Regions from separate parts of the Homo sapiens genome. Here region 1 is reported to be linked to region 2. Evidence: microRNA targets listed by miRTarBase, many of them from high-throughput screens and not tested one by one. Region 2 holds a microRNA gene; the other region holds the end of a gene's coding sequence.
Evidence for each region. The annotated mature microRNA hsa-miR-3940-3p reads CAGCCCGGAUCCCAGCCCACUU and lies in region 2 at 11,363-11,384, opposite strand. An mRNA with a match to its seed (bases 2 to 7 or 8) in the 3' UTR can be bound and repressed. Matches are read on the target gene's strand: a 7mer-m8 pairs with bases 2 to 8, a 7mer-A1 pairs with bases 2 to 7 and ends in A, and an 8mer does both.

Region 1: miRTarBase lists SPRING1 as a target of hsa-miR-3940-3p. Seed matches in the 3' UTR shown: 7mer-m8 at 12,891-12,897 and 7mer-m8 at 12,810-12,816.

What each region holds. Positions count from the first base shown.
Region 1 is chr12:116,704,742-116,718,774 of GRCh38, forward strand. It overlaps SPRING1 (SREBF pathway regulator in golgi 1), which reads right to left. Exons shown (of 5, transcript NM_024738.4): 5 at 5,430-13,152. The coding sequence ends at 13,069. Among named protein-coding and RNA genes, the nearest start is that of SPRING1, 26 kb to the right of the region's middle. RefSeq lists enhancers at 3,081-3,130, 4,431-4,610, 12,451-12,980, 12,981-13,510.
Region 2 is chr19:6,405,072-6,419,945 of GRCh38, forward strand. It overlaps MIR3940 (microRNA 3940), which reads right to left and starts at 11,440; the gene lies at 11,339-11,440. It overlaps KHSRP (KH-type splicing regulatory protein), which reads right to left. Exons shown (of 19, transcript NM_001366299.1): 7 at 14,132-14,189; 8 at 13,631-13,805; 9 at 13,412-13,510; 10 at 12,910-13,008; 11 at 12,668-12,770; 12 at 11,916-12,016; 13 at 11,667-11,811; 14 at 11,419-11,579; 15 at 11,227-11,336; 16 at 10,737-10,825; 17 at 10,463-10,663; 18 at 10,309-10,386; 19 at 8,031-10,230. The coding sequence ends at 9,953. It also overlaps the pseudogene LOC390877. RefSeq lists enhancers at 6,626-7,450, 7,451-8,275.

The sequences.
Region 1 (14,033 bases), not on the chromosome of region 2:
CTGTCTTTACTAAAAAAAAAAAAAATACAAAAATTAGCCAGGCATGGTGGCACATGCCTGTAATCCCACTATTTGGGAGGCTGAGGCAGGAGATAACTTGAACCCGGGAGGCAGAGGTGGCAGTGAGCCAAGATCGCACCACTGCACTCCAGCCTGGGCAATAGAGCGAGACTGTCTCAAAAAAAAAAAAAAAAAGAAATAAAGAAAAGAACAGAAAAAAATCATTATTCATGAGAGCCAAAAGCGGAAACAATCCAGATGTCCATCAACAGATGAGTATTTTAACAAAATGTGGTATAGCCACACAATGGAATACTATTCGGTCATACAAAGGGATGGAGTACTGGTCCATGCTACAACATGATTGAACCTTGAAAACATCATTTTAAGTGAAGGAAGCCAGACACAAAAGACTCTACTAAAAAGACCCTGTCTCCACTAAAAATACAAAAATTAGCCGGGCATGGTGGCATGTGCCTGTAGTCCCAGCAACTCGGGAGGTTGAGGCAGGAGAATCACCCAAACCCGGGAGGTGGAGGTTGCAGTGAGCTGAGATTGTGCCACTGCACTCCAGCCTGGCTGACAAGAGCGGAACTCCATCTCAATCAATCAATCAATCAATCAATCAATAAAATTGATAGTGGTAATGGATGCACAACTCTGTGAATAAAGTCATTGACTTGTATACTTCAAATGGGTGAATTGTAAGTAAATTATATCTCAATAAAGCTGTTACCAAAAAATCAAATGCTAGACTATTTAACATGGAAAACCATTCCCATTACATTGTTAGGTGAAGAAAGGGAGAGAGAGAGAATGGGGCCCCAGGGCTGCTGGGTTCCATAGCTCCCTGTGAATGATGGCCCTTGGAGATGCAGAATGAAATGTGGGATTTCACCCCTCTCCATGATCCATGCATGCGTGGTGGAAATTGACTCTGGCTGCCCAACTCCGCAGTGGCGTGCAACTCACTTTCTCTCCAACTCATCCTTCAAAGCCCTTTAAGGGATATTTGGTTACAACATGGTAAAATATAATGAGATTCCAATTTTTGTTTCTATTAAATATATTAATATATAAGCGCATGTGTGCATGAAAATAGATACACATCAAAGGATAACAGTGGTTGTCTACAGGTAGAAAGGTTATGGAGCTTTTATTTTCTCCTTCATATTTGTATTGCTCTAATTTTCTGTAATGCAGTGTATTAATTTGCAATTAGAAAAATATATATATGTATTTTAAAATGTGTCTATAACCCCAACACTTTGGGAGGCCAAGGTGGGCAGATTGCTAGAGTCTAGGAGTTCAAGACCACTTTGAGCAACATGGCAAAACCCCGTCTCTACAAAAATACAAAAAATTAGCCGGGCATGGTGGTGTGCACTTGTAGTCCCAGATACTCCGGAGGCTGAGGTGGGAGGATCACTTGAGCCTGGGAGGTTGAGGCTGCAGTGAACCGTGATCACACCAGTGTACTCCAGCCTGAGTGACAGAGCAAGACCCTGTCTCAAAAAAAAAAAAAATTAAAAGATAAAAATAAAAACATATTGTTTTATTCTGTAAGTCTTCTCTGCCTGCCTCACTCACATAGTAACACTCCTTTTATCCTCACATTTATAACCCTGTTTAACAGGTAGTGGCATAATTGCTTATCTTCTCCAACAGACATCTGAAGACAGATATCATTCCTAATTTATCATTCCATCCAAAACCCAGAAATGCCTGCCTTTGATATGCCTGGTGAACATAGTACGCATTACCAAATACTAAGCAGTATCTTCTGTGTGAAGCCTACATTAAAATTTTATTCAAGACTTTGTACCCTTTGAGGAGACAGTAATACAGTCCCTTCAATGCTTTATATTATCATGAAGGATTATTTCCCTTTTTGCCCTTGCTGCCAGGAAGCTTACTTGCATCAACTGTGTTGCTGGCTTACAGTTGCACATCTGATTCTAACTTTCTTCCTTGAGTCTAATGTGTGGCATTTCCTCAACTTCTTTTTGAAAATAAACCAGCTACACTCAGTGTAGCTCTATGCATGAGGTAGGAATAAATAAATAAATAGTGGCTACTCTGTTGAGGATAAAATATTTTCTTTGGAAATCCAAAGTGGTATTTTATCCTAAGAGGGATGGTAGCATCAACATCTAAGGGTGCTCAGGCACAATGTGTCCAGAACCAGAGGCTTGGAGCAACTCAGTTTTAAGCCCCGGAAGGGATGAAGCATCTTCCAGTTCTGTATACTCCCCAAGTACCTACACAGAGCTGGGCGAAGAGTAAGCACCCTTTAAATACCTGCTGCGTGAATACTCAGGGCTCAAAATTCCGTATCCTTGCCATGCAAGGGGTCACAAAGTTTAACCCAGGGTTTCTCAGCCTTAGCACTTCTGACACTCAGGCCAGTGAGTTCTTTGTTGTGGGCTGGTTGTCCTGGGTGTTGTGGGATGTTGAACAACATCCTTGGCCTCTACCCACCAGATGCCAGTAGCACCCCTGCACATAAATTTTTTGACAATCAAAAATGTCTTCGAACATTGCCAAATATCCCCTGGGGGCAAAATCTCCCTCTGGTTAAACAGCATGGGTTTTTGCCAGGTGTGGTGGCATGGGCCTGTAGTCCCGGCTACTTGGGAGGCTGAGGTGGGAGGATCACCTGAGATCAGGGATTGGAGACCAGCCTGGGCAACACAGCAAGATCCCATCTCTAAAAAAAAAAAAATTAAAAATTAGTCAGGCATGGTGGCTCATGCCTGTAGTCCCAGCTACTCAGGTGACTAAGATGGGAGGATCACTTGAGCCCAGGAGTTCGAGGCTGCAGTGAGCAGTGATTGTGCCACTGCACTCCAGCCTGGGCCACAAAGCAAAACTTTGTCTCAAAACAAACAAACAAAGAAACAAAAACAACAACAAAATGTCTTCAAACATTGCTTGAAGTGGGTGGTGTAAAATCTCCCACTGATTAAACAGCACTGGTTTCAAGCAACACCTTCCAGGTCCTAGAAGCCACCAACTACAATTCTAGAATACCAGGGCTGGAAGGACCCCATGCATTATCCTGTTGACATCCTTTCATAGACAGGCCAATGGGCCCAGAAATAAGAGACTGAGGCACAGCCCCTGCCCACAGGAAACAACAAAGGGTGATCAAAACGTGCCAAGGCAACGCGCTGCCCCGGCCCTGCTTGCACGCAGATTGGAGTTGCAGGTGGCTCCTCCATGTCATGGTGTAAACTTGTGCTAAAATTAACCTGAGCGTCTGAGACTTCCTCTATAAAATGACAAAAAAGAACACCTGGCTGGGCGCGGTGATTCATGCCCTGTAATCCCAGCACTTTGGGAGGCCAAGGTGGGCAGATCACCTGAGGTCAGGACTTCAAGACCAGCCGGCCAACATGATGAAACCCCATCTCTACTAAAAATACAAAAATTAGCCAGGCATAGTGGCATGCACCTGTAGTCCCAGCTACTTGGGAGGCTGAAACAGGAGAATCGCTTGAACCCGGGAGGCAGAGGTTGCAGTGAGCAGAGATCGCGCCACCGCACTCCAGCCTGGGTGACAGGACTCCATTCCAAGAGAAAAAAGAAAAGGAATGCCTGGCTGGGTGCAGTGGCTCACGCCTATAATAATCCCACCGTTTTGGGAGGCTGAGGCAGGCAGATCACTTGAGCCCAGGAGTTCAAGACCAGCCTGAGCAATATATCGAGATCCCCATCTCTACTAAACATTTTTAAAAAATAACTGGGTGTAATGATGTGTGCCTGCAGTCCCAGCTACTCAGGAGGCTGAGGTGGGAGGATCACTTGAGCCTGGGAGGTTGAGGCTACAGTGAACCAAGATCGCGCCACTGCACTCCAGCCTGGGTAACAGAGTGAGACCCTGTCTTGCTCTCTCTCTCTCTCTCTCTCTCTCTCACACACACACACAAAAGAAGAATGCTGGTCTCTGAAGATGGGGATGGGACGCTGCACGTGCAGAGTGGCACATGGCAAGTGCTTCATAAATGTTTTTCTTTGTCTGAGTATGAATGGTTAAGAGGCCTATCCCACTTTTCGTGTTGGCGGAGGGTGCAGGAGGAAGAAGGGGGTAGCTGTGAGTATTTATTTAAGCCTTGGGTCTTCTCTGCACCAGCAGCATGCCCAGTTCCCTCTTCTGCAAGGGCTACTTTCCTGAGTCCCTGTTCACAAAATCGCCCGGACCCAGGAAAGAGTCCTGATCTGTCATCCCCACCAGATGGTTCTCATCTATAGAAACAGCTTCATTGTTTTCAGGAGAGAGAGCTCCACGCAGGCACGGGGCCCATAATCTCTAGACAACGATCACATTGAGGACAGAAAACCTATGGCATTGGTGCCACCAAGTGGCACAGAAAGCAATTGTCGGTGTCTGTGCCACCCGCGCTGCCTTGCTCTCCACTTTCCATCTCTCCATCTTCTCCTCCTTCCCTTGAAATCGCACCGCAAGTGTCATTTGACTACACTGCCATCCTTCGAGGTCTGAAAGGGCTGCAGTGAGAAGAAAGGGCTTTACGATCACATGTGACTCGGCTCTGTAGTTCCTCCCCGTGCTAAATCAGGTCAATGAGCTGATTTGTGTCAAATAAATTAGCCCAGCCGGCTGCTAAGCTGCTCCAAGCCTATCTGTCTTGGGCTTCCAGGTTGGCATTTAGCAGGCTGCAGGCACAGCCCAGGCAGGTATGGATGCCACGGACGGAGCTCGAGGAGCACGCCCTGAAGTGCTGCCCAGATGCAAACCTCCCGGGAGAAACTGAGTCCAGCACGTGCCTAGGGAAGAGAGCACAGTGGATTCCAGCTCCCGACATCCTGCTGCAGATGCCACGGAGCATTTAGGAACATCTTTAGAAACTGAAGTCCTTTATACCCTCGAAAACCACCATGTAGACCAGCAGCTTGACAGGGCGGAGCTGGCTGGTGCTGGGGGAAATGTGGACTGCCTTGAGCTCAAATAATCTTACAACACCAGGTAGCCAGTAAGACGGTCCACAGATCCTCCCCTAGCCTTTTTATATTTTACATTTCTGCATTTAGCAATTCACTAAAATAAATGACAGGCTCAGGAGATCTGGAGTGCAGTTTTCCCGATCTCTGCTCTCTCAGGAAAGTCGAGTCACGCCGAGAGACACCCTGCCGTGACAGGTTTCTTCAGCATCCCTAATGCAGGTCAACTCCGGCCGCGACAAATGCCTATAATTTATTTGTGCAGAACAAAAAGACTTCCTTCCCCACTGCATAAAATCAGACAAGGAAAAAGCAGGCAAAGCTAAACTCCTGTGCAATTATGAAAGGGTTTTAACCTCTAACTGGGCTTCAATCTTCCAGGCAGGATGATAGAAGTGGAAAGTGCGCTTGCCTGCTCTGCAAATGAATTCGCTATCATTGGATTAAATCAATCTAACAGGAGCTAATTATTTTAAAATAATATGGACAGCAGGGTCCTACCTTTATTTACATACAAATACAAAATCCACGTTTATATACAAAATACAGGCAAAACGCTCCAGCGGAACTTTAATTAGTGGTTATCTCTAGGGGCTGGGAATCTAATTTGGCACAATTTAATTTCTTTGTAAGTTCATACATTTTAAGGTTTCTGCCTGGTAATCACAAAAGCAGAGAAAGGAAAACCTTTTACTGAGCTGAGCAATGCCTGTAGAAGCCCTGCTTAGTAGGAGTTCCAAGATGCTCTGTGTATCTCAGGTGAAGCACACCTAAATAATTGAGCACTGCATTAAGGCTCAGAAACGTAGTACCGTTGTGTGCTTCTCTGCCAAAAGGCAGCTATTTTTATGACAGAAAACACAGCAGCTGTTTTCACAGGTGCAGGGCAGCAGTACATGGGAAGTTGGTCCCAGCAGAGAAGGATATGGTGTCTCTTTAAAACTGGAGGAGGAAGAGGCAGAAAATGGTGAGCCCCAGTTGAAATCTGCAAGAGAGAAGGAGGAAGCCCTGGTTTGGAGAAAAACGGGCTCCAGATGGCTGGGCTACATTTGTCCTGTGAAAATCAAAAGCCTGGGACCCAGCCGCTGGGATACGAGGGCTCTGGTCTTGCTTTAACAGCCAGGGGGACTTTTGGCTTGTTACAAAAATTGGAATTTGGATCTGCAAGATACGCTAGCCATCACCCTTAATTGACAAATGAGGAAACCAAAGCCGGAGAGGGTAATTTACTCAAGGTCATTAAGGTCAGTGCTCTTGTCAATAAAATTAGGATATTGCTCACATACTTCATACTGCTTTTGTTACACACACACACACACACACACGCACACACAGAGCCAATGTATGGAAACATCCCTGAGAATATATAATGTCATCACATTTACTATTCAAATTAGCATCAACTGGTCAAATATTTATTCAGGTAGTAACTTACTCAACATTTCTATCTTGACATCCCCCAGTACAACTTAATACAATGCCCCAATCCCCACAGGACAGGACAACACTCTCTCTCGCTCTCTCTCTTCCTTAAGAATAGTGAGATGTGGCCAGGCGCGGTGGCTCACTCCTGTAATCCCAGCACTTTGGGAGGCCGAGGTGGGCGGATCACGAGGTCAGGAGATCGAGACCATCCTGGCTACTAACACGGTGAAACCCCGTCTCTACTAAAAATACAAAAATTAGCTGGGCACGGTGGCGGGCGCCTGTAGTCCCAGCTACTCGGGAGGCTGAGGCAGGAGAATGGCGTGAACCCAGGAGGCAGAGCTTGCAGCGAGCCCAGATCGTGCCACTGCACTCCAGCCTGGGCGATGGAACGAGAATCCGTTTCAAAAAAAAAAGAATAGTGAGATGTGACCAACATAGCCTGGAATCTTAAATTACTGATAATGGTGATTTCTCATTTAGACAACACTTTTTTCCCCTCCTCAGACAGGGTCTCACTCTGTGGCCCAGGTTGGAGCACACTGGCGCAATGACGGCTCACTGCAGCCTTGACCTCCTGGACTCAAGCCATCCTCCCGCCTCAGCCTCCTGAGTAGCTGGGACTACAGGTGTGCACTACCATGCCTGGCTCCTTTTTTTTATTTTTTGTAGAGACAGGGTCTCCCTATGTTGCTCAGGCTGGTCTCGAATTCTGGGCTCAAGCAATCCTCTCACCTTGGCCTCCCAAAGTGCTGGGATTACAGGTGTGAGCCACCACACCCGGCTGCCAACACCACTTTCGATTTTGGGATAATCTGGGTGCACAGTGATCAGAAGCTTACCTACCCCACGTTGCATAAAAAAAAGTATGAATTTAAAAATTCCAAGAGTAAACTACCCTATGAAAACCTCTGGCAGTGCTGATGAAAACACATTTCTGGTAGTGATATGTCTTGGTCCCTCTGGTCTCACAGAATGTGTAGTCCTGAGAAAAAATAAACCTGGACTCTTGGTAAAATATTTGAATAATTAACTGCTTTGCTCATTGGTTGTAACTGGCAAGTCATTCTCTTTACTACATTAAAGTCTGCACTTTCATTTTACAGACAGTCCTACAGTTCAACTCCAACATCAGGGACTGAGTCGTACACAGGAAGATCACTGAGTAGGTTCTGTGGAGACGCAGTCGGCCCATATGCACGTCACCACTCGGCTCCCAGCTCAGGTGCAGACCAACGGCGACCACTTGCTCCACTTTGCTCTGTGACAGCAGACGAGGTAAGGCATGTTGCAGATACATGCTGAATATAGGGATGCCTGTACACAAAACTGCACTCATGCTGTGATAACACGCAAAAGGTCACACACTGGAAGAGCCTTGCCCAACGAACGATAGACTAACAGGCCAGAGGCGGGGAAAGCTTCTCGGAGTCCCACTATCTTCTTTGTTTTTATTGCTCCTACTTACTTATGTGATACCTTTTTAGTAGAATGACTAGTTTTCTAAACAGAACCTGTAATGACAGGCTCACATTTCTTCCTCAACTCCCACCTCCAAAGCCACTCCATTCAAAGAACTGCTGGTGAGGTGCTGGGGAGTCAATCCGTCGTAGAGGGGAAGCGTTCTACCCCTCCAGATCCTTCTGCAGACAGGAGGGTGTCTGCATTCGGCGGAGTCCAAGAGTGCGGTGAGGACACAGTGGCAAAGGAATAATGCCATTCCTTGAGGCAGCGCTGGGCTAGTAGAGACCTGTGAGGAAGTAATGTGTCCTGTGGGGATTTCAGGGTAATTTAATCAGCAGCACTTCAGCAGGGTAGAAAGCAAGGGCGGGGAAAAATAATGAAGTCAGCACTCAGCTACCAGGAGCTCCTCTGTTCAATCTAACGGGGAGATATGACCCCAGAGCAGGGCTTCCCTCCCTCCACCCGGCTCCCACTTCCAGCCAGGTAATTCTGTGTCGTGGGGGCTGTTGGGCACCATCCCTGGCCTCCCTCCACGAGTGCCCACAGTACTGCCCTCCTCCCCACCTGTGACAAAAATGTCTCCAGACATTGCCAAATGTTCCCTGGGGGGCAAAATTGCCCCTGTTGAGCACCACTGCCCTAGATGAACTGGAAAAGTTGGTTTGTGAATATGTGAGCTTAGTTGTTTCTAACACAGGGCTGAAAAACAAGAGAAGGGGACAAAGGCTGCTTTCATATAAAAATGTACTGTAGTAATCAGTAAGAAAAAGAAACAACATTGGCTAAGTCACGAATAGGCATTTCACCATATGTACATGATAAATGGCCAATCAAAATAAGGAATGGGGCTCATTCTGCTGGAAATTAAATACATTCAAACAAGAACAGAGATCCATTAGCAAAATGTTTAAAAATAATATCACAGGGTTACCAGGGGTATGACAAAAATGGACACTTCCATACACACTAGGTGAATATATTGGTGAAAATAGTTCAGATAAACATACAACCATGTATGTAAAAGTATTTATCATCAATGCATTATTTGTAGTAGCAAAAACAACAAGCAGCCTTGGAAACCAGTTAATGTCCTCAGCAGGGAATTAATAATATTATTGTATATTCATGAAATTGACACCATGTGGCCACACAAATGCATTACACAGGCCTCTATGTAACATAGGATATTCATTAGAGAATTGTTTTTCAAGAGGACAAAGTACTTTCATTTTTGCCTAGAAAATGGGGGAAGACAAAAATGCGCTTCTCTCTAGGTTGTGTGATTTTAGGTTATCCTAAGTTTCATCCTTACGTGCTCCTGAATTATCTGAAATATCGTATCTTTAAAAACAGTAACAACAATAGTAACAAGAGCTCTGTAATTCCTACCCTTCCAACCTCAGGAGCCCACCCACCCCTATCCGAGCCGACCCCTGACTGCCCCTGCCATTGCTCCCTGCTGAGTTGCAGACATTGACTTCTTGCCAAGCCTCAGGCCTTGCTCACATCGACACCTCACAGTGACCCTGAGAGGCAGATGCTGTGACCCCATTTCACAGATGAAGGGCCTGAGCCACAGAGGAGGAAGACTGCCTCAGCCACGCCGCTAGTAAGTGGTAGTTCCCAACTCTAGAGTCCCAAAAGAATTCTGTCCTACTTATGAAAAGTATATCCAATAAGCAGTACCTCCCTGTGTTTACAACTTATCTGCTGATCCCAAGGATGGGAAAAGCTGCACTCAGAAACTTGCAAATTGTGCAACTGTTCCCCACGATTCCCTTGGGGCCAGTGCCGACTGAGGCATCTCCAGGAGGCCCCAGTTGGGCTTGGGGACATGCTGAGAGGTGACAGCACTGCTCTCAAGTCATATCCTCTGCTTCTGCAAAAGCTGTGGAGCTCACCCATCAATAGCAGCTCCATGCCGGGCGCAGTGGCTCACGCCTGTAATCCCAGCACTTTCGGAGGCTCAGGCGGGCAGATCATCTGAGGTCAGGAGTCCGTGACCAGCCTGGCCAACATGGTGAAACCCCGTCTCTACTAAAAGTACAAAAACTTAGCTGGGTGTGGTGGTGTACGCCTGTGATCCCAGCTACTCAGGAGGCTGAGGCAGGAGAATTGCTTGAACCCAGGAGGGGGAGGTTGCAGTGAGCTGAGATCACGCCATTGCACTCCAGCCTGAGCAACAGAGCAAGACTCCATCGCAAAAAAAAAAAAAAAAAAAAAAGGCTCTAGCATTGCCAGATCCCAGGCCCTGTGGAAGGTATTTCCCTCCCTCTTTTGTCCTTGCTTGTCTCAGAGCCCTTTTCACAGTCTCTTGTGTGCTTCTTTCCCTGTTAGGACCAATCTTTACAACTCCAGCAAGCGCAGCAAATAAGATGCAGAACTGGGGGAGATGCAACGTATGACTCAATTCCCTTGAGCCGAAAACACTCACTTATTAACAATATTTTTTTCTTTTTTTTGAGACAGAGTCTCACAAAAACAGGCACACGCCCCCACACCCGGCTAATTTTTGTATTTTTAGTATAGATGGGGTTTCACCATATTGGTCAGGCTGGTCTGAACTCCTGCCTTCAGGTGATCCACCTGCCTCAGCCTTCCAAAGTGCTGGGATTACAGGCATAAGCCACCACGCCCCACCAATGAAATGTTTTCTAAAGGTGTTTTCATCCCTTTTGTGATCTCCTAAACTCCCAAGGTGTATCACACACTTCGCTGGGCTCTGGGCAAACAAAACTTAGACAAGGTCCCTGATTCTAGAAACCCTCGGTCGAGGGAACCACAAACCAACCAGAGTGGAGGGCAGGGAGAGGTCCTAGGTTGGGAGCTGGGAGCCTGGAGCACGTGCCAGGTGCTCTGCAGCCCAGCTTCATTATGGAGGCTCAAGCGCTGTGAATTTCCAAAAACAGTGAACACACCCCTAGCTGATTGAAATACAAAAAACATATTCCACAGCCAAATGAAAATGACTTTTGGATCCTCCACCTAATTTGGGTGTTTATGCCGCCTCGCCCCTCTTTTGGCCTGGACAATTGAAATATATCTGCTCTCAGGGGAGACGCCCACGGTGTCAGGGCTGGAGTTGGCAAGAGACAGGGGGAAGAGGACTAGACCTGGAGTCAGAGATGAAGTTCTTGTCTGGGATCTGTCACTAAGTCTCAGCGGGGACCCAGGAAGTCACTCCACCTCTCATAGTTCCTCATCCACAAAGTGGAAATACAAGCAAGTTTAATTCTCCATCGTAAGGTTGGAGCTCCTGTCTGTGAAAGGACTGGAAATGTAAAATGCGCTCTTCAAGTACAAAGGCAGAGAGGATCCATAAACAGGCACAGGCTGCCCTTTGGTATAAACTGTTCACATTAAATCTATGTTATGTTGCTCAAGAGTTAAAATAAGCTCAAAGGAGAGGCTGATTCCAATGTCAACCCAGGGAAGACAGACACTGAAATTCCAAACTGAGTTACCAAAAACAATAGATGGATGAGACATGCAGACATGCCACAATCCGGCACATCAGAGTTCGATGTAGTCCTGCTGCAAACACATGGAATCCGAGAAGTCCAATGCAAACGGAATAGATTTCTTGGGATCTAATATTTTTCAAATTGCCTGACCAGCTTACCTTCTAGGAAAACTTATTTAAGGGAGGCAAATAATTTGGGGAGATGAGTATAAGAGGTAGTAGGAGGAAGCTAAGGGAAATCACCACTACATATTGCAGGAATGTATTAGAAGGCAAATATGGCCCAAAGAAAAAGCTCCACTGAAAAAAACATTGAATACTGACCACAGAATTAGCACCTTGCTCCCAGGTCAATAAAGTGAACCAAAAAAATTACAAAGACCTTGCTCAATCCTGAGGTTCGTGAGGAATATAGGAGAGTTGTGTGTTCACGTGACTCCTGAAAACAAAGAGCAGTACTATTCGAAGGGCATGATGTCTTGATCTTAGGATCAAATATTCTAGACCTTGAGCCGGAGAATCTGCATTACAGTAGGAAAAATGGGGAGTGCTTTATGCCTGTGGATTCAGGACACACCAGCAACCTACACGTGTAGCATTCTCTAAGTCATAATGACCATTCTCATCTCCCACTGAGGGCAGGTGTAAGACTCTTCTCTTGCAGTGCTCTGATAGAAAGCTGGGTTTCTTCTTCTTCTCTATAAATCATAGGGAAACCAAATATTTGTACCTGTTACAGCCCCAAAGCTGAAAGCAATAAAGAATAAACACATACAGCAAGCTACGAGGTGCGTCTGTTTAGGAATTGCCTCAACGTTGGGTTTCTATTGATAGAACAGGGGAGGAGGTTGCCTCTGACCTTCCTGAGGCTCCCACTGTACCCTGGCTGAGTAGCCCACAGTTAATTTTAAGTGGCAAAAGAAATGAGAACAAATTCCTCCAGGAAGAGAAATTAGATTTCTGCTAAAACAGTGCTCTCCATAGGGTATATGAGCACATTCGACTACCACTGGAAAATAACCTGAGGGCAGGCACATGGTGCCCACTGTTAGAAATCGTGCAGTTAGATTAGAATGGAAGAGTGTCTGAGTTTTTAGATAATTTTACACGTCAGGATATGGCTAACAGGTCACGTTCAGGGCCTATGCTTGATACTGTCGAAATACAAACAAAAATAACTGCCTAGAGAGAATATTCACGTCCTAAAAGAGAAAATGTTGTATCTGGGTGGAAGAATGATTTAACTCCTGAAACTCGAGAACACAGAACAACAACAAAAATAATTTCCTTGAACATATTCAACTAGAATGGCAAGGCATTTTCCTACATAAAACATTAGAATGTTCCCATTACTCCAAAGGAATCCAATAAATAATTTTACAGTGAAAGAGCCTGGATCAAAACTGGAAGTGACACCGGCCCCCGATGAACACAAGTCACAGGTCCCTGTGCAGGTCCCAGGGCTGAGTCATCCAAGAACTCCACCACCACCGTGAGCCCGGCCTCCGGTTTCATCTTTCCCGAATGGGACTGGCTGGAGGGGCCAAGCTGCTTTACAGAAGAGTTCCATCTGGTAAGCCCGGGTGGTGAGCGAAGCCAAAGATGACAACACGAGAAGGGGTCAAAGCCAAGGTTTCCTCACGCTGCCTTTGTCTTCTTCCTGCAGCCTGGCCCGATGGCTGAAGCTGGGTCCCAGGAGGCGAGTTCTTCAGCGGGGCCTCCTCACCCAGGCTGGAGCAAGTCCGCTGCACCCGTCAAGCGGGGAAGAGCTCGGGCGGGCTTTCTCCATAGCAATACTTTGCTATGGGGTCCCGGTAGGTGTTCTCATGCTGCACGCTCTGTTGGCAAAAGGAAAATAAGAGCGCAGTGAGAGCGAGCACAGCTTCACACACCTCCCTCTCGGAAGAGTGAGAGTGGATCGGGACTGTCAGACTCTCCCTGCAGGGGGCTGGCCGAGTCCATCTCCAAATGTCACTAAAGGCTCCAGGGCACTTTCTGGAACAAAGAAGAATGCTCAACCCAGAATGCCAATGAAGAGCATGAACACAGACATAACATCGCTGTGGGACTGTTTCTTTTTATGTACACCAGTGAGTTTTTAAATAACTTTGCTGTGACCTGGTGACTCAAGACAACTACTTTTCCTCAAATTACTTGAAACAGTCTAAGATCCAATGGGTGTTTTGCACCTGATCCTGAGCTTCACTCAGTTCCCGTAAGGAACCCTGCAGAGACACTAAGGAGATGCACTTTAAATTGCTTTCATAAAGTTTATGTACCTAAAAATTTGGGGCATGAGCCAAATCCTACAATACCATGCAAGCCTCATTTGGCTAAGCAAATTGGAAGTGTGATTTAAAGCAGACAATCATTCCTGATGGCTAATTTTTCAGCAATTTGTTTTCATACAAGCAACTTGGGTTTTTGGCTAGTCTAGAATTCATTAATTAGTCCAAGACCAATGCTAAGCAACAAACTTGTAAATATTCATCCAATTTAACAGACATATAGCCAAGTCTTCTCTTTCTTGGGATACTTTTATCAAAACAAATCAAATGGCAATTGGGAAATCTTTTTATGGTAAAAAAGACCAAGTCCTAAAGTATAGTAGCTTCACTGAAGACTGGAAATAATTCCTGGGTTTTATCAGTGAAGGAAAGAAAATACTTCGCCTTTTCTAGCGTTTCTCAGAATGAGAGAGAATCTGAATCAAAATGAG
Region 2 (14,874 bases):
TCGCTCTTGCCCCCAGGTCTGAGTGCAATGGCTTGATCTCGGCTCACTGCAACCTCCACCTCCCGGGTTCAAACAATTCTTCTGCCTCTGCCTCCCAAGTAGCTGGGATTAATGCACCTGCGACCATGCCTGGCTAATTTTTGTATTTTTTGTAGAGATGGGGCTTCACCATGTTGGGCAGGCTGTTCTCGAACTCCTGACCTCAGGTGATCCGCCCGTCTCGGCCTCCCAAAGTGCTGGGATTACAAGTGTGAGCCACCGTGCCCAGCCATAAAGTATGTATTTTTTAAAACCTTTTTATTAATTATAGACTCACAAGGAAATGCTGAGATAGTAGAGAGGTCTCATATGCCCTCCGCCCAGCTCCCCCACAATGAGGATGTCTTTTTTTTTTTTTTTTGAGACAGAGTCTCGCTCTGTCACCCAGGCTGGAGTGCAGTGGTGTGATCTTGGCTCACTGCAAGCTCCGCCTCCTGGGTTCACGCCATTCTGCTGCCTCAGCCTCCCCAGCAGCTGGGACTACAGACACCCGCCACCACACCTGGCTAATTTTTTTGTATTTTTAGTACAGACGGGGTTTCACCGTGTTAGCCAGGATTGTCTCGATCTCCTGACCTCGTGATCTGCCCGCCTCGGCCTCCCAAAGTGCTGGGATTACAGGCGTGAGCCACCGCGCCCGGCCTTTTCTTTTTTTTTTTTAAATGGAGTCGCACCCTGTCACCCAGGTTGGAGTGCAGTGGTGCGATCTCAGCTCACTGCAACCTCCGCCTACCGAGTTCAAGCGATTCTCCTGCCTCAGTCTCCCGAGTAGCTGGGACTACAGGCATGTGCCACCATGCCTGGCTAACTTTTGTATTTTAGTAGAGAGGGGGTTTCGCCATGTTGGCCAGGATGGTCTCAAACTGACCTCAGGTGATCCACCCGCCTTGGCCTCCCAAAGTGCTGGGATTACAGGCGTGAGCCACCGTGCCTGGCCGTGGTCGAATGCTTCTTGTTTTCTGGTACAAGACTTTAAACTCCCGCTTTATTTTTATTTTTTATTTTTTTTTGTCACCCAGGCTGGAGTGCAATGGCACCATCTCAGCTCACCGCAACTTCTGCCTCCCAGGTTCAAGCAATTCTCCTGCCTCAGCCTCCTGAGTAGCTGAGATTACAGGCGCCCACCATCATGCCTGGCTAAATTTTATATTTTTAGTACAGATGGGGTTTCACCATGTTGGCCAGGCTGGTCTCGAACTCCTGACCTCAGGTGATCCACCCACCTTGGCCTCTTAAAGTGCTTGGATTACAGGTGTGAGCCACCACGCCCGGCCTAAACTCCCACTTTTTACATTTCTTGCTCAGTCCTGGAATGGGTCTTTTCCAGAAGCCCTTTTCGTGGTGCAAAATTAGGGTTCAAAGAATACTCGTTGCTATTGGGTTGTCATCGTTTCTGGATCTTCCCAGTGAACAGAGCTAAGAAACACATACTCTTGAAAGAGAAAAAGAAATCACAAGTTCATTCTGATATTTCACGTTCACGTGACACTTACAGTGTTGTTCCTTCCCTTTTCTCTTTCCCTAAAAATTTTGGTTCTTAATACCACTAACATACTCATTTGCATCATACCATTAGATACCAAATAGTTTGAAAACAATATGCCAACATTAACTACTAAGAATAAAACTATATGTGTTGAAACATCACTATGTACCCTATACACATGTACAATTATTGGGTCAAAACAATAAATAAAAGAATAAAATTAGAAAAGGAAGTTTAAGATTTCTTTATAGCTCTCATTTTCCTTTATTATTATTATTTATTTATTTTAGTTTTCTTTTTTGAGACAGAGTCTTGTCCTTTGTCCAGGCTGGAGTGCAGTGGCATGATCTCGGCTCACTGCAACCTCTGCCTCCCAGGTTCAAGCGATCTCTGGATAATTTTTGTATTTTTAATAGAAATGGGATTTCGTCATGTTGGCCAGGCTGGTCTCAAACTCCTGACCTCAGGTGATCCACCCGCCTTGGCCTCCCAAAGTGCTGGGATTACAGGCGTGAGCCACCGTGCTTGGCCTCGTTTTCCTTTAATATGTAGGTCCTCTGTATCCATGGGGGATTGGTTCCAGGATCTGTCTCAGATACCAAAATCCATGGATGCTGAAGTTTTTTTGTTTGTTTGTTTTTGAGACAGGGTCTCGCTCTGTCGCCAGGCTGGAGTGTAGTGGCGTGATCTCTTCTCACTACAACCTCCGCATCCCGGGTTCAAGCAATTCTCCTGCCTCAGCCTCCTGAGTAGCTGGGATTATAAGCATGTGGCACCATGCCCGGCTAATTTTGTATTTTTAGTAGAGACAGGGTTTCTCCATGTTGGCCAGGCTGGTCTTGAACTCCTGACCTCAGGCGATCCACCCACCTCGGCCTCCCAAAGTGCTGGGATTACAGGCGTGAGGCACCACACCTGGCTGCTCACATTTCTGATATACAATAACACAGTAGTGGCCAGGTACGGTAATCACACCTGTAATCCCAGCACTTTGGGAGGCCGAAGTGGGAGCTCAGGAGTTTGAGGCCGGCCTGGGCAACATAGTGAGACCCCATCTCTAAATAAATTACATATTCAAAGAGTTAAATAATAAAATAGCATAGTATTTGCATAGAACCTATGATCACCCTCTCATATACTGTAAGTCATCTCTAGATTACTTGTAATACCTAAAACAATGTAAATGTTATGTAAATAGTTGTTATAGTGTATTGCTTAGGGAATAATGACAAGGAAAAAATTCTGGGCTGGGCAAGGTGGCCCACGCCTGTGGTCCCAGCTACTCAGGAGAGTGAGGTGAGATCGCTTGAGCCCAGGAGTTTGAGGCTACAGTGAGCTATGATTGCGCCACTGTACTTCAGCAAGACCCTGTCTCAAACAAATAAAAAAAAGAATTTTATTTTGGACATTGTGAGGTATGGGGAAAAAAACCAGACCCTGTCTTAAAAAAAAAAAAAAAAAGTCTATACATGTTCAATACAGAGGCAACTTGTTTTCCAAATATTTTCTTTTCTTTTTTCTTTTTTGAGACAGAATTTCCCTTTTGTTGCCCAGGCTGGAGCGCAATGGCGCGATCTCGGCTCACTGCAACCTCCGCCTCCTGGGTTCAAGCGATTCTCCTGCCTCAGCATCCCGAGTAGCTGAGATTACTACCACACCCGGCTAATTTTTTGTATTTTTAGTAGAGATGGGGTTTCACCATGTTGGCCAGGCTGGTCTCGAACTCCTGGCCTCAAGTGATCTGCCCACCTTGTCCTCCCAAAGTGCTGAGATTACAAGCGTGAGCTACTGCGCCCGGCATCCAAATATTTTCAGTCTGAGGTTAGTTGAATTCACAGATGCAGAACTCACGCATATGGAGGACCAACTCTATCCCACTATAGATGCACCATAATAAAAATACAGGGTTGGCCAGGCAACCCTACATAATGAAACCTAACTGAAACAAATGACCCAACTATGTATCTATTGCATTCCTTAATTACACAGAAAATATATATATATATCTTTTTATATGGAGTCTTGCTCTGTCACTCAGGCTGGAGTGCAATGGCACAATCTGGGCTCACTGCAACCTCCGCTTCCTGGGTTCAAGCGATTCTCCTGCCTCAGCCTCCCAAGTAGCTGGGATTAAAGGCACGCACCACCACACCCAGCTAATTTTGTATTTTTAGTAGAGATGGGGTTTCACCATGTTGGTTAGGCTGGTCTCGAACTCCTGACCTCAAGTGATCTGCCCATCTTGGCCTCCCAAAGTGCTGGGATTACAGGCGTGAGCCACCGTGCCCAGTCAGAAAATAATTATTTCAAATGACCTTGTATCCTTTTTTTTCCCCCCCACTCAGAAGGCTGAGGCGGGAGGATCACTTGAGTTGGGTAGTTCAAGGCCCCAGTGAGCTATGGTCACGCCACTGCACTCTATCTAGCCTGGGTGACAAAAGTAGACCTTGTCTGAAAAAAACCCAAAAACCCATAACCAGCATTCACAAGAGGTTTGGGCACAGATACAACAATGGTTAGACCTGGCTGTCTGGGGATTCCTCACGCTATCCTCTTCTGTGTGCGTTTGCAGTATTTCATTACATCAACTTCTTTTCTCTGTTGTCCAGACTGGAGTGCAGTGGTGTCATCTTGGCTCACTGAAATCTCTGCTTCCTGGGTCAAGCGATTCTCCTGCTTCAGTCTCCTGAGTAGCTGGGTCTGCAGGCGTGCACCACCATGCCAGGATAATTTTTATATTTTTAATAGAGACGGGGTTTCACCATGTTGGCCAGGCTGGTCTCAAACTCGTGACCTCAAACGATCTGCCCGCCTCGGCCTCCCTAAGTGCTGGGATGACAGGCCTGAGCCACCATGCCAGCCTGTTTTTTTGTTTTTTTTAACTTTGCCATATATCCATCCAGAATATCTCACATCAGTGTCAAGAGATATTCCTTGTTTCTTTTTTTACAGCTGTGTAGTATTCCATTGTGTGGCCACGCCATTGTATATTCAGCTAATCTCCTATGGGCAATAAATTACTTTCAATCCTTTGCCACTACAGACAATGCCACATTAAATAATAACCTTTGCATGTCATTTCACCTTTTTGCTAGTATCCTTGAAATAGATTAGGAGTGGAATTGCTGGATTAAAGAGAAATGCATAATTTTGCTAGCCATCACCAGATTCCTCTTCATTTTACATTTACAGTGAGACCTACAGAACATGCTGCCAAGGTTTTGGATTTTTGTCAACCTGTGTAGGTGAGAAGTGGTATTTCAGTGTGGTTGTAATGAGCATTTCTCTGGCTACAATTGAGTTTTAATATCTTTTGCAAAGTTTAAGGGCCAAGCTGGGCACAGGGACACATACCTGTAGTCCTAGCTATTCAGGAGGCTGAGGTGGGAGATCGCTTGAGCCCAGGAGTTCAGGGCTGCAGTGAGCTATGATCTTGCCACTACACTCCAGCCCAGGCAACAGAGTGAGACCCTGTCTCTAAAAATACAAAAAGTTTGAAAGGTGTTTTGTTGTCTTCTTCAGTAAACTCTTTCTCTCTCTCTCTCTCTCTATATATATATATATATATATTTTTTTTTTTTTTCTGACAGGTTGTTGGCTTTTTCCTTTCTTCTTTTCTTTTCTTTTTTTTTGAGGCAGAGTCTTGCTGTGTTGCCCAGGCTGGAGTGCAGTGGTGTGATCTCTGCTCACTGCAACCTCTGCCTCCCGGGTTCAAGCGATTCTCCTGCTTCAGCCTCCCGAGTTGCTGGGACTATAGGCGTGCACCACCACGCCCGGATAATTTTCGTATTTTTAGTAGAGATGGGGTTTCACTGTGTTGGCCAGGTTGGGCTGGAACTCCTCACCTCAAGTGATCCACCCACCTCAGCCTCCCAAAGTGCTGGGATTACAGGCGTGAGCCATCATGCTTGGCCATTGCATCACATTTGGATCACATGACAATTATAAACTAGTTTGGGAAGACTCAGCTCCTTTATAATGTTGAGTCTTTCTATCCAAGAATATATATCTGATCCTTCTGTGCAAGTATCCTTTTGAGTCACTTAAGAATATTTTACTTTTTAGGCTGGGCGCGGTGGCTCATGCCTGTAATCCCAGCACTTTGGGAGGCTGAGGTGGGCAGATCACCTGAGCTCAGGAGTTCGAGACTACCCTGGCCAACATGGCGAAACCCCGTTCCTACTAAAAATACAAAAATTAGCTGGGCGTGGTGGTGGCTGCCTGTAATCCCAGCTACTTGGGAAGCTGAGGCAGGAGAATTGCTTGAACCTGGGAGACGGAGGTTGCGGCGAGCCGAGATCGCGCCACCGCACTCCAGCCTGGTTGACAGAGCAAGACTCTGTTTCAAGGAAAAAAAAAAAAAAAAGAGGAGGAAAAAAGTATTAGAACCATATTTGCTTGCAGTGTGCATGCCTCATAGCTTTCGAAGGAGACACAGGAGCAGGTAACTAGGCTGCCTCCAGGGAGAGTGACCCTGGGTGGTTGGAGATGGCGAGATGCTTCACTGTGTGTGTGTGTGTGTTTGGCAGTGAATGTCCTGTCCTCTCCAAAAAGTAAATACGTAAAACTTGAGCTAGAAAAATAAAACAAGGTTGGGCATGGTGGCTCACGCCTATAATCCCAGCACTGTGGGAGGCCAAGACGGGAGGATCACCTGAGGTTAGGAGTTCGAGACTAGCCTGACCAACATGGCAAAATCCCGTCTCTACTAAAAGTACAAAAATCAGCTGGGTGTGGTGGTGTGCACCTGTAATGCCAGCTACTTGGGAGGCTGAGCCAGGAGAATTGCTTGAACCTGGGAGGAGGTGGTTGCCGTGAGCTGAGATCGTGCTATTGCACTCCAGCCTGTGCGACAGAGTGGGACTCCATCTCAATAAATAAATAAATAAATAAATAAATAAATAAATAAATAAATAAAACAGACCAGGGTGGCCTGATTATTCCTTACGTGCCCAAATAAATAAATAAATAAATAAATAAATAAATAAATAAAACAGACCAGGGTGGCCTGATTATTTCTTACCTGCCCACGTAATCCTAGATACCTGGTTTCTGGGGAAGCCGGGGTTCTGGAGCCACTGTGCCTGGTCCCTCCACACCCAGCCCCCTTGTTCGGGTTCCTAGGTGGGCCAGGCCCCCAGCGTCGTCATCGTGTTTGACTGCTCCATGGAGACGATGCTCCGACGAGTGCTACACTGGGGCCAGGTGGAGCACCGGGCAGACGACTCGGAGCTGGCCATCCACCAGCGCTTGGACACGCACTATACCTTGTGTGAGCCGGTCTTGACCTACCAGCGCAATAACCTGCTCTGAAACGTAGGTGCTCCCCGCTTCTGGCTCACTGCACCCCAACCCCTAGGGAACAAGTCTGGCTTTAACAGTCCAGGGTCACCCGGGCCTGGTCCTCGCTTTCCTACCAGGTAACCTGGGGGATTCCCATTCCCCCAGGAAATGCCTTGAGAACCCAGCCTTGGCTCACGTGGGAAGGCAATGGGACACTGGTGGGGCCTCCCTGCACGCCCTCACACAGCAGTCAGCAACACAAGCTTTCCTGACCCTGTCCCCTCTCCCTTCACGTGCATGCCTCTGGGATTTTCCCAGGGTCTGAGCGGGAGAGGGTGGTGTCCCTGCCGTGGGGCCCAGACCTGACCCCTGCGGCTCCCCTTTCTCTAGATCCCGGCAGAAGCAGCACCAGAGAACATCTTTGCCAAGTGCTGCTCTGTCATTGAGAGTCTGCAGTGAGACAGAGGGGCTGGGGGTGGGCCTTGCCCCTCACCGGAACCCGTGCAGTACGTGGGAAGGGTGCGTACCTAGGAGGTGAGACCTCCAGAAAGGGGGACCGATGCCCCCTGTGATTCCAGAGCAACAGGTTCCCTTTCCCGGGGTCTGTTTCCCCACCAGGGAGGTTGGCCAGGGGCCACCAAGGAACATGCCCCACTGGGCCAGGTGCCTGGCACACCTGCATGGGTCAGGGGACTGTCAACAGCCCCCCCTAGAGGCCACAGCTGTTACTGGCTCCTGCCGGGGCTATCACCAGGCCCATGAGCCCAGGACATCTAAGATGAAGCGAGTTTTAAACGCTGGCATTCAGCCACAACCTCAGAGACCCTGCAGCTGCATGCGGGGCTGCAAGACACCTGCCCAGGTCCAAACAGCTTGGGTGGCCCCTCGGTGCCCTCTCCCACCTCACATCCGGTCCCATCACCCAGCGAGCACTGACGCGGGCCTGGCTCCCACCTCAGGGCTCTGAACGTTAACAGGCCAGAGGACCTCCTGTAGCAACAGCCCATCCATGGGAACGCCGGTCCCTGAGGCCCTCCTGAGCGCCTTGCTCCCCAAGGTGCTGGAGGGAAACTGGGTAGGGGAAGACAGCAGTGCTGGGCTCAGCCAGCCTCCCCTTCCCACATGGGAAGGGGAAAGTCTTGGGGGGCCACACCCCACTCTAATTGGCTGAGACTTGCTCAACTTGTTTCCTCTCACAAACACAACTGCGGCCAGCACGCAGTCTTTTTTAAACAAAAAGCACTTTATTTAACAAAAAAAAAAAAGGGGGGGGGGCACGGTTAGGAAAGCACATTGAGCCTGAAGAAAACTATTTTATATTTTTCTTAAAAAAAAAAAAACACAAAGTTTGTAAATTTCAATCACCATTATCAGGCTTTTTAAACAACATCTATAAAGAACAAACATCCGCTTCAAAACTACAGGGAGGGAAGGAAAGGGGGGGAGACAGACAGCACCCGCAGACGGGGAGGTTTTGTTATCATTTATTTGTGAAGTTAAAAACGAGCGATAAAAAGTAAAAACTGCCATACAATTTTTTTTGTTGTTCTCATTTTGTTTTCAGTTTCAATCTCCTCTTGAACAGATGAAAAGACAACAGACCAGTCCTGGGAGGGGGGACGGGCGGGGCCGCGGGAGCTGAGCCAGGGCGGGAGGGAGAGAAGAGGGGGCTTGGCTGCTGGGGGAAGGGGTCCTGCAATACAACACCTGGTCCAAGGAATGTTCCACCTCTAACTAAAAAAAAGAAATAGCAAGAGTGACTTTTTTTTTTCCTTTTTAAAAGTTTATTTTAAAAACAAGAGGGCCGAGGGTGGGAGAAAATGAATTGCTTTATCCTCAGAGAGGCAGGTTCAGGAAGGCTGGGGGGTGAAGAATAGAGACTTTTTAATATATATATATATAATTTTATAAGTTCTGCTTTGCTCTTTGTGTTTTTAATTTTTAAGTTTTTTTTTTTTTTTGGCAGAGATTTAGATCTCGCTATCTTCTCTGGCTGGCTCAACATGGAAGGATCCCAATTTTGAAAGAAAAAGCATGTGAGACACAGAACAGGCGAGAGAGTGAGGGCCCGGCATGCCCCCAAGTCCCCCCCACCCTGCTTGCCGCGAGGGCTCCCCAGTACTCCCCACGGCAGCCATCGCTCTCTCGCCAAACAAAACAGAAGCCCCCAAACAGAACAAAATGGAAAAAAAAAAGATTTTTCACAGATGAAGAAGTTCACATTCATTCGATTCATTGAGCCTGCGGAGAGGGAAGAGATAGGAATTGGTCACTACGGGGAGGGAAGGGTGGGAGACTAGGGGGCGGAAGAGAGGAGGGGCTGGAACACCGTGGGGGGGGCCAGGAAGCCCCCTCCCAAACCTGCGCTGGCTCAGGCTGGAAGGACGTGCTTGTTAACTGTCTAGCCAGGTGCTCGCGGGACTCGCTGAAGTCACGCTGCTCCCTGATGGAGAAGGAGGGACAGAGCAGGAAGAGAGGAGAGGGGCCGCGGAGGGCGGAGGCGCTAGGGTCGTAGGGGAGCTGCCCTGTCTCCGGAGGGCGGTGGCTCCCGGCGCAGCACGACGACATGAACAATCCAGAGATCATGGTGTCCCCACAACACCCCTGTGAGGTAGGTTGGAAGGTGGCAACGATCTTCACGCCCACTTCACAGACAAGCCCGGGACACAGGCAAGCGCGAGCGCATGGGAGGCTGAGCCCGGCGGGGCAGGGGCCTGGGCCGCTCCCCGCGTCCCCACCAGTCCCTGCCAGAGCCAGGCCGCCTGCAACACAGTCACTTGGACACAGGAAAAAAGATCATGGGTTTAAAAAATAAAAGAATAAAAAGAACAAAAACCAAAAAAGTGATGCAGAGAAGGGGAAAAAATAGACGTTTTCTTCCCAAGTGGCCAGATTGTGAGCGAGGTGGTGGCGGCCGGGCCGGTGCCCACCGTCCGCGCTGTCTGCCTGCCCCCCGACTCCCCAGCAGTTCAGAAGTCCCGCCTGCGAGTCTCAGCGCTCCCCAGCATCACGACAGCGGCACACAGGAACAAGCAGCCGGCGCAGGGAGGCCTCTTCGTTTAACCTCTGGACCCAGCGAATGCTTCCCTGGCGGTGCGTGGGGACTCCCGGAGACCTCCGGCCACACGGCCCCCGCTGCAGGCATCAAGGGCACACCCCGCAGGGGAAGGGGTTTCCGGCGCTACCCACTAAGGCAGGATGGACGGTGGCCGGGGGTTGGAAGGAGAAAGGAGGAGGAGGAGGGTGGCAATTCCCACTTGCCTGCTGCTGTCCCTGCTGCGTGGGCGGCGGCTGGGGGCCGCCAGGACCTGGGGTCTGTCCGTAGTAAGCGGCCTGCTGTCTGTAATATTCCGCCCAGGCGGCACTGTAGTCTGGCTGGGAGCCTGGGGGAGCTCCTGGACCCCCTCCGGTGGCCACTTGCGCTGTGGGTGGACAAAGGCAGGTGAGAGGCTGTGGGTGAGGGCTGCCCCTGCCCCTGTCCCCGCATGGTGGCCACTCACCTTGCTTCTTGTAGTACTCCTCCCAAGCCTTCGTGTAGTCCTGCTGTGGGGGTGCTCCGGGCTGCTGGGGCTGCTGGCCTGTGCGGGCGCCGAGACAGGTCAGAAACCACTCCCCCGGCAGGGCTGGAGCCCCCCCGCCACCCTGCAGACTCACCGATCTTTTTGTAATACTCTTCCCAGGCCTTAGTGTAGTCCGACTGGCCGGTGGGTGGGGGCTGAGGGGGCTCACCCTGAGCCGGTGGGGCCGCAGGGGCCGGTGCGGGGCCGGGGACGGGGCCCGGGGGCTGCTGGTAGTAGTGTGAGTAGTAGGCGGCCCACGCGGCGTTGGGGTCCGCGGCCGCTGCAGCTGCTTTGCCTGCAGGAGATACCTCGGGTGAGACGGGGGGACAGAACAGGGCCTGCCCTCCGCCAGGTGGCCCATCACTTACTTGGGTCATGAGGAGCAGGCGGCTGCCACTGGGGGTAGGTATTGCCCCAGCCCTGGGGTGGGTACTGGTGAGGAGGGGGCCCCCCGGCACTGCAGGAGAGAAGAAAGGGATGCTTGAGCAGTGGTGCGGGGGTGGCCGCAGCCGGACCACCTGGGGTGGGGATGTTTTTCAGTGGGGAGGCGCCAGAGACCCAGACCACCAGGCTCAACGGGGCGCCTGGGAAAGGCCTAGACAAGAAGCAACTCGAAGGACGCGCAGCGTCAGCTTGAGGACATGAAAGAAGCCGCGAAACTTGCACGTGCACAGAGGGATGCTGAAAGGCACATGCTCTACCAGTAGACAGGAGAGGGCCTGTTGATGGTATCCACAAAAATGGGCTGGATGAGGCCCCCCGCCTGCACTTCTAGGGAAAGGGAAATGGGGTCTGCTATTCTTCTTGCCAGCTCAGTAAGCCCCCGGCCTCAAAACCCAGGAGGCAGAGGATACTCACTGTGGGGGAGCCCCGGGTGGCCCCTGGTTGAAGGGCCCAGGATTGAAGGGCCCCATTGGGCCAGCAGGGCCTGGGCCACCTGGGCCTGGTCCAACTGGGCAGAGAGGACCCTAGAAGGAAGGAGAGTAACCAAGGTAAGTGGGCTGGGATCCGGGCTGTGAGACCAAATCCCCAGAGCCCGCCCCAACCCACCTCGATCTTTTCCTCGATAAGCTGCTTGGCGTGGTCAATCTGCTGGGGTGAACCCCGGATGATGAACAACTTGAAGTTGGGGTCCCCGTTGGGTGGCAGCTGCCGGGAGATCTCTACGAAGGCTCCCGTCTGCTGGTTTATGGCTTTCACATTCTCGCCACCTGCAGAAACGCAGAAGGTGAAGGTGGCCTGCAGTGATGGCCCAGGGAAGAGGGGGCAAGGGATAGGGTGCAGGGGGCCACACTCACCTCGGCCGATGACCAGCCCACACTTGTGAGTGGGGATGGAGAAGGTCATCTCCCCGCCAGGGGGACCCCAATTGCCTTGGCCTCTTCCTCGGCCTCGGCCCCCCGGGGGCATGCCTGGACCCCCTGGAGGACCTGGGGGACCACTCTGCAAGACAAGAGGAGGAGGAGGATGATGAACCCTGGAAGCCGGTCTGGTCTTGCACTCCCCTGGAGGCCCTGCCAGCCCCTTCAGCACCCGGGGCCACCTACCCTGAGGCTCTGGAGGAGGTCGTTGATGATCCGGGCTGCGTGCTCGCACCTGTCTGGGGGCCCCATTATATGAGCAATCTTCTCGGGCCCTGTCCCGTCATCTGAGGCCAGCACCGAGAGAGCAGAGACACAAGTTTAAAAGAAGAGCCCACCCCAGAGCCCTGCAACGCCGCCTCCAGCGCAGACACCACGCCGGCCTGAGATCTCAGACGCGCTGCGCCGCTCCCAGCCTCCACTCGCTCAGGGATTGAGGGGGAGGCGGCCCACATTCCCAGAGAAGGAAACCCACGGCCAAGCCAGGAGGTGGCTCAAGCTTCTTCCAGCACACAGCACCCCCAGCACTGAGAGATTTTACAGAACAATAAATCTCTGAAAAGCCAGAGGGGCCCTTCTCCCCACGGCAGGCAGCTCAGAGACTGCCTGAGGACTGGCAAGAGCCCAGAGCTGAGGTGGAGTGCCCTGATCCAGCCTGCGGGGCACCCAGGGCTGTCCTGTCAGGATAGGCTCCATCGTAGGGGGAGGAAGAGGAGATCTGATAGGGATAGGAACACACGTTCCCCCTGGATGTGGAAAGCCCTCATGTGTCTGTCCCAGAGAAGAGAAGGGACTGGCCATGTTCTGACGGCTGGACTAAGAGCCGTGAGGTGCTATGGAGGCCACCTGGCTGACCACGGTGCCCAGCTCCCTCAGAGCCTGCCTCCCAAAGAGGGTGGGGGTGCACTGGCCAGGGGCAGGGTGGGCCAGGCCCTGACCTTGCTTGAACTGTATCCGCACGCCAGCATCATTCTGGATCTTCTTGATCATCTCTCCACTCCGGCCAATGACCACGCCAACAGAATGCCTGGGCACTGGCACCTGGGGAGGGAGGCAGCAGCGTCAGCTCGGCCCGCAGCTCTGCTGCCCTCTGCTGCCCACTGGCCACAAGGAGCCACTCACCCCGGCCCCTCCCTCCACTGGCGGGGGAGAGGGGGGTGAAGGCAGGGCCCACACTCACATCGATGCCTCCGCCAATCCGAGATCCGTACTCATTCCGGTCCCCAAAGCCGCCTTGGTCACGTTCCCGGAGGATGTCCATCACCATCTCACAGGCTTGCTGCAAACACACAGGAAGCAGCCCCCATGGGTGAGCCCTGCTGCCCCACACCCCCCCACCTCCTCGGGGGTGCGGGCCTCAACTAAGGACCCACGAACCCTGGGTGAGCCCAGCACAGCACCCTACTGAGCTCTCTACCTGCCACTTTAATGGGGAGGCACTACCAGCAGCCCCGTTTCCAGATAAAAAAGCAGAAGGTCAGAGGTGAGGCCGGTGCCTCACACACACAAAGCTGGGAGTCAGTTCAGGGCCATCCTACGAGCCAGCGCTCTTGCAAGCCTCTTGGTGTTATGACCGACTGTTCACATATCTCTCTGGCGGAATGCAGACCCCGAGACCGCTGGCCCTGCCCACCTGCCCGTGCCTCTCCAGAACCCCCTCCACCACCCCAGGGCGTGCTCACCTGCACTTTGTAAGGATCCCCAATGATGCGGAGAGGTTTGTCCACATTCGTATTCTGAGATCCGTCCTGAATTAAGATCATCTTCACTCCAGCGCGTTCCTTTACAAGCAAGGTTAACCGTTAGTGCTGGGCTCTCCCAGGACTTCCTGGGCTGCTGTGGTGGTGGCGGTGGGGTGTGGCACACGGATGCAGAGGAAGCTGCCCAGGTGCTGCCCTCACCTGCAGCTGCTTAATGGTCTCCCCGCCCTTGCCAATGACCAGGCCGGCCTTGCCCGCGGGGATCATGATCTCCTGCACGGTGCCGTTCTGGCCCCCGTTGGCGTTGTCGTGGAACTGTCCTGGGGGGCCCCCACGACCCCGAGACACAATGTCATCCAGCATCATCTTGGCTTTCCTGGGAAGGGGAGGAGCGGGGGATGAGCGGGTGCCACCGCTGGAGAAAGGTACTGGTCTGGTGGCCCACCCAGCTCAAAGGGAAGGCGACCCCAGAGTGTGCAAGGATGACAGGGAAGAGGGGCCAGTCACAGGGGCTGTTCAGGCTCCAGGTTCCCCAGGTCTTGGGCTGCCGGGGAATCAGCCTCATGTTAACATGGCTGTCTGGAGATGGGGGCAAGAATGGAGGACATGGCGTGCAAGTTGCTCCCAACTTTCAATTCAAACGGACAGAGCAGGCTTCTGCCTGCCCCCCACATCACAATGAGAGGCCCTGTGGGGACTTACTGGACAGATTCTGGGGCTCCTGTCAAGGACACACTGCGCTCGGGTAGGCCACCGCTGTCTGAAAAGAGGAGATAGAGTCAGTGCCCTCCCTGGCCCACAGGCAGAGAAAGGCCTGCCTTGGACACGAGGAAACTTTCAGAACAACCAAGGGCCACTTCTGTCCCATTCAGTGCCTGACAGATCAGTTTACTTCCCCTAAACACCTGGGAGGCTGCTCGATGCAAGGCCAAGGTTGGGAAGAGATCCCAGAAGGGAGGTAGGACTTTAAGGGAAAAGGATGAGGTGGAGGGAGTTGCAGATTCCAGAAGGTCCAGGAGCCGGCCACCCCCACTACCAATGATGACCAGAGCCGCTTCTATAGACAACACGTGCTACACGCCCAAGGAAGCCTCAGAACCCCCTACCCAGCAGGCTTTCTGTAGCTCAGGACTCTGAGATTCGAAAGGTAACTACATTGCCTGAGAGCAGATGTGCAGCCAGAACCGGGATTTGCTCCTGGGCCTGACCTCAGAGTGACCCCTCTGTCCAAGGCACCACCCTGTCTCACGCAGTCTTGCCGGGGTGCTTTCACCCACGCGGCAGGTCAGTGCAGTGCGTCGAAGCTCGGTGTCTGGAACCAGGCCCCTGTGCGAAATGCTAGCCCTGCCACCTCAGTCCATACCCACCCACTGAAAATAAAAAAAGTCACAGCTGTGCCCCGTGGGCAGTACTAGTGGAGTGAGATACTGCACTGAGCCTGGTCC